Regions from separate parts of the Homo sapiens genome. Here region 1 is linked to region 2. A link means that fine-mapping ties the variant in region 2 to the expression of a gene that starts in the linked region. Tissue or cell type: whole blood. Region 2 holds a variant in brackets; the other region holds the start of a gene. All regions are shown on one strand. Distances are between the middles of the regions.

Evidence for each region. PIP is the estimated chance that this variant, and not a neighbour inherited with it, causes the effect.
Region 1: it holds the start of RBM18, and the variant in region 2 is fine-mapped to the expression of RBM18 in whole blood (INTERVAL, PIP above 0.99).

The regions. Positions count from the first base shown.
Region 1 is chr9:122,263,605-122,266,364 of GRCh38, forward strand. It overlaps RBM18 (RNA binding motif protein 18), which reads right to left and starts at 1,236. Exons shown (of 6, transcript NM_033117.4): 1 at 1,111-1,236. MRRF (mitochondrial ribosome recycling factor) reads left to right here and starts at 1,278. Exons shown (of 7, transcript NM_138777.5): 1 at 1,278-1,334. RefSeq lists enhancers at 418-1,389, 768-1,967, 1,390-2,360, 1,536-1,695.
Region 2 is chr9:122,242,787-122,245,546 of GRCh38, forward strand. It overlaps RBM18 (RNA binding motif protein 18), which reads right to left. Exons shown (of 6, transcript NM_033117.4): 5 at 2,470-2,555. Among named protein-coding and RNA genes, the nearest start is that of LHX6, 15 kb to the left of the region's middle. The variant C/G (reference allele first, on the strand shown) is at 1,108.

The sequences.
Region 1 (2,760 bases), 21 kb after region 2:
AGAAGATATAATTAGTGATACATGCCACAAACACAATTAAGCAGGGTGATGTGACAGGGACTCGACGACTATAGATTGAGTGGAGGGAAGGCCTCTCTAAAGGAGATGACATTTGGGACTTGAATGATAGGACATTCTGATTTTCTCATGTCTAAAATCAGGAATAATACCAATAGCTATTAATATTTATTACCACGAAAAGGTACCATGTTTTACTGGTAAGAGTGCAGGCTATGCGGGTCTGGGTTCAAATCCTGACTTTTGCACCTAGTAACTGCACCTTTAGCAAGTCACATGACCTTTCTTTAAGCATCCTCTCGATAGAAAAGCTTTCCTAAACAGAGTTCCTTGTTATTCTATATCATAGCCACTTTTCCATCTTTTTCCTCCTACTAAATGCTAATTCAATGTATTACTTAATGTTTCCTCTTCTATTTCCTTCACTAGAACGTAAGCTCCCACAGCACAGGACCTTGCCAATCTTGATCACGGTTCTATTTCTAGCACTTAAGTACACTGCCTGTCTCACGGTTGGTGCTTAATATTTACTAAATGAAGCAAGCCGCTTCTCCACTCGAAGACTTAGTTTCTTTTTCCTTCCTAGAATGGGTACAATTTGTCGTCTCACGAGGTCGTTGTGAGTCTTAAATAAGACAATTTTGGTGACAGCTCAGAATATGGCTTTTTGAGGAAAGGTAAAGGGTAATAAAAGATCAAGACGGCACGGGACTATCAAAATGCTTTGCGTTTGCAATAGCAACAATCCTTTAGACTACCAGAGTTCACAAAACGCGGTTACATTTGTCTTTCCAGCTGAGCTGCAATAACTCTGGAAGCCAGAAATAGTCATCTGGGGAAAGTGCAATCCAGAGAAGAAGAGACACCTGATCCTAACAGCAAGCGGTGGGGTCATGCCTGGAACCCTGGCTTCCCGATTTCTGGCTGCGAATTCCTACAGGCGAAGGGTCATTACTCGGATTGTTATTTCCGGGCCAGCGACAGGACAATCCGGGGCGGGGCCTGAGATGCAGTCCTGCGAGGGCGGCCTCCTGTAAGACCTCTTAGCGGGCCCATCGCTGAGGTGCAGGGACATGTCGCGGCCGAACTCACCTCGTGGCCTCGGCGTGGTGCTCTCAGCTCATGCCCGGAAACCAGGTCCCGACGCCGCGGTCAGACGGACCTCTAGACGCGTCCGCCTCAATGCCGCCAGCTGCCAGGCCGCCCGTGACGCGTTAAGCCTGCGCCGCCTCCTGGCTTCGTGACGTCACGACGTCCGCGCAGCTGCGGTCGCCGCCGTCGCACGAGTCTTTCCTTAGTAACCTGGGCGATAGCTGGTGAGTGTCCTTGACAGGGCCTCGAGGGGCGCGTGTGGTCTGGGTGCCAGAGACCCTTACTCAGGGACCTCTGGGGGACCTCAGGGGACCAGACTACCGTCCCCGACCCGTTCGAGTCCAGCTTGACCTTTAAGGCTGAGGGCGGGACCTGTGGCATTGGAGCGAGTCTCATGGGGTGGGGGCGGGGCTCCTTTTACCAGCTAGGAATTTAGGGGATGCTGGAGGAACTTACTAAAGAGTAGCCGCACACTTGACGGGAACGTTTGAGTTTCAGAACAATCCCATAGGAGTAGATATTATTATCTCCCATAATGAAGAAACGGAAGCTCACATAGGTAATTTTACCAGGGTCACGCGGTCAGAAAGTGAGGGCGCTTAAATTCAGACCTAGGGCTATCCGACTCCTAAGCCTGGACTTTTAACCACCACTCTGTGCCACCCAGTGGCAAAACAGTTGTCATTTCAGTAGCCCTTCTCCATTTACTTAACCCTGACAAATAGTATTGTCATTTACGTTTTACAGATGAGACGGAAGTCCTGAGAGTTTGACCGATTTAAGGTCACGTGCCTAGGAAGTGCTGGAACCAAGACTCGGAGTTTTCTCTAAGTTTAGTGCCTTTATTTTGTTTTAAACCACACTGTTGCATTTCCCCCCATTTTGGAAAGCTTTATAGTTGGAAAGAATGAAAACCTGATCTGACCCCTTCATTTTATGGTTGAAACAAAATCTACGTAGGAGAAATCACTTGGTACAAGTCACAAGTCAGTGGTAGAGCTGCCGCAAATGCTTTTTGAATACGTGTGATTATGAATCTAAATGGCAGATGGCAGGGAGTGATAAGGTAGGCATACTGGAATCCAGATCTCTTAACTCTTAGGCAAAAGCCCTTTCTCTACCTGTTAAAGTGTCTCATTCCTTCTTTGGCCGTGCCAGGTGCATAATGATTCTGTGTATAGTCAGATACTACAAGTACCTTTCTTTACCTGGTACTGCATTTAGAGAAGAACATCATCTACTATCTCTAAGCAAAAATCTGGCAAACCAGAGACAGTGGAGGCAACGCTGGGAAGCCCAGAACCTACCATAATAGTAAGGGTAGATTCCCATCCGATTCTGGTTTACCCTGGATAAGGAATTTATCTTTCTGGACTTTCACTGATGTATTCATCACATTCACAGTGTCTTCTGTGTTCTGGCAATGTACCAGGTACTGGGGATACAGCAGTGAACAAGAAAATCATAGATTAGTCCTTGTAGTACTTAGAGTCATATGGAGGGAATTAGACAATCAAATAATTACACAAATGTTAGCTTGTATTGTTAAGAATTAAGTGCTATGATGAAGTAAAGGGTGCTATGAAAGCAGACTACAGGACACTTGACCTAGTTGGGCTGTAGGAGATGGCCAAGGAAGCCGTCCTCTGA
Region 2 (2,760 bases):
AGGTAGGGCTACAGGCACACACCACCACATCCATCTGAATTTGTTTTTGTTTTTGTTTTGAGATGGAGTCTCGCTGTGTCGTCAGGCTGGAGTGCAGTGGTGTGATTTCGGCTCACTGCAACCTCCGCCTCCCAGGTTCAAGCAATTCTCTTGCCTCAGCCTCCCAAGTAGCCGGGATTACAGGTAGCAAGCGCCACCACGCCCAGCTAATTTTTGTACTTTTAGTAGAGACAGGGTTTCACCATTTTGGCCAGAATGGTCTCAATCTCTTGACCTCGTGATCCGTCCGCCTTGACCTCCCAAAGTGCTGGGATTACAGGCGTGAGCTACCGCGCCCAGCCCCATCTGATTTTTTTAACTTTTTTTGTAGAGATGGAGTCTCACTATGTTGTCCAGGCTGGTCTTGAACTCCTGGCTTCAAGTAATCCTCCTGCCTCAGCCTCCCTAAATGCTGGGATTACAGGCATGAGCCACTGCACTCGACCTACTTATAATGTTTTTAATCCTTGCAATGGCTCTACATGGGTTATCATGCATGTTTTATAGATACAGAAACAAATGCAGAGGTGGTGATATGATCAAGGTTCACACAGTTAACAAACTGTAGTGAGGATTCAACTCATCACCAAAGCCCTCATTTTTTCTTCTCCATCAAGTTAAGAGCTGAATAGTCCTATATTGTACAGGAAGGGAGAGGAGATCTTAGAGAAGTTGCGAGGAATTTGCTTTTGATTGAGATCATTGCTATCCCTGGATCAGAATGCAGAGCACTCAGGGAGTAGGTATTTTTTGGCCTATGGCTACCTTCATTTTCCATTCTTGATGCGTTAATGGTCTATGGCCAGTGAGAGAAACTTGGAAGGAGTATATACATGGGCTTTTGGAGATCCTCGAAAGGTATACATGGGCGAGAAATTTAAAAACTAAGTTACAAGAAAAAGAACACTGATATATTACCGAGATGCATTCTGGCCCCTCTTCCATTAATGCCACAGCTGGTCACTGATTTTGTATAAGTCACAGGGAAGCAACCTTCTCTCATTAGGCATAGATGTTAATAGAGAGATGTAAGCTGAGGTCCTCTGGATAAAAAAATAGATGGAAAAC[C/G]CTAGGCTATCTTGTAAACAAGTGGCATATACAAATCATAAGAAACTAAAGACATGTTCATTGTAACATGAAGACCACCAAGCATAAATGCAGTCATCTCTTTCAAATAGGAGTTAGTTAGATTTATGAAAACCTTCATGGAAATCAATCTGTGATCAAGGAGGTTCAAATCTTATGAGGAAAATAACACAGTGGATATATGCTCCCAGTGACTCTACAGAAGTCCCTTAATTCCCTAGAGCACGAAATAAAAAAAAAAAATCATATTAAACTTAAATGAATAACTATAGAATGAATTTAAATTTACCAATTTACCATTCCTGAAAACATTTCAGGAACACCTTCCCTTGGGTTTAATGAGATGCTTGTAAATCTGTTTTGTTTGGTGCAGATAATATACAAGAAAGGCATTTATTTCCCCTGCTTGGTACTCCACCCAAATAGGCATCACTTTCCTGACTTTAGAATTGTTGGTTTCTGATCCTTATGTATCACTGATGCTCCTTCACGTATTTTCTTCCCCTGCCCCGGAACAGGTTTTAGTCCTGCATTTACAGCCTGGGGCTTCTTTGAAGTAGTAACTACAAGACTGAATTTTGAGGTCTAATAGACCTGGCTTTAAATCCTGAGTGTTATTTGCCATCTGTGTGATCTCAGCCATAAGTAAATGACACACTGCAAATAAAGTGTTTAGCACAGTGCCTGCTTCAGCGTAAGCTCAATAAATCCTGGCTATTGTTATTGTTATTGCTAAAATGTCTCCCTAGGCTACAAGGCAAAACAAAACAAAACAAAAAACAAACAAACAAAAAACCCACCTTCTACTTCTGCTCAACCATCCACTTAACTTCCCCTTCCTCTACCCAACCCTTAGTTCTCCTGTTTTAAACTTCAAATAACTAACAATTTGTACAAACTAGAACCAAAACTGTTATGGCTGTTGCAATGGTACATAGAATCAAACATCTGCAAACTAAAATTTTGTATAAGGGAACTTAAGATTGGGGAAAAATTAGTATATAATGACAAATGCCAAAGAGACCCAAGGCCTTATTAAAATGCTTGTTTTTAGGGTAATGACTGACCTGTCTTTGTAATTTTAGTGCCAAGCACAAGGGTTGGTGTGTAGTAGCTACACCCAGTCTTTTTCGAGGGAATGATTCTGTAAATGGGGAGTATATGACCTTAGGTGGATGGAAGGAGAGGAAATGTATACATTCTGGAGACTAACTGAACATCTCTCTTGTCAAGTTAATAAATTCTAAGAGTCTGAAGACTCACTATTTTATGAACGAAGACATGGAATAATGAAATGGCTGAAGCTCCTGAATTACTGTGTCTTTCTATAGTACATCATCTTACCTTAGGTTAGACTGAGTAGGCTCAGTGCTTGAGGATGGCTCGAGACTGATTGGAAGAATCTTATCATTCTTGTTATGATCATATCTCTGAAAATGAGAAATAGAGAAATTACTTCACATGGGCAGAAACCAGCCCTTTACTGTAGTGGATGGGTTCAGAAACTAATACCATCAGTATATCATCAGCTTACTTCTAGACAATTTTAGGACCACTTTACACTTAGAATTAATGAAAAACTTCACATGGTTTTGGCCTAAAAGCTGTAAGTTTAGAAAAAGAAGCTTCCATCCA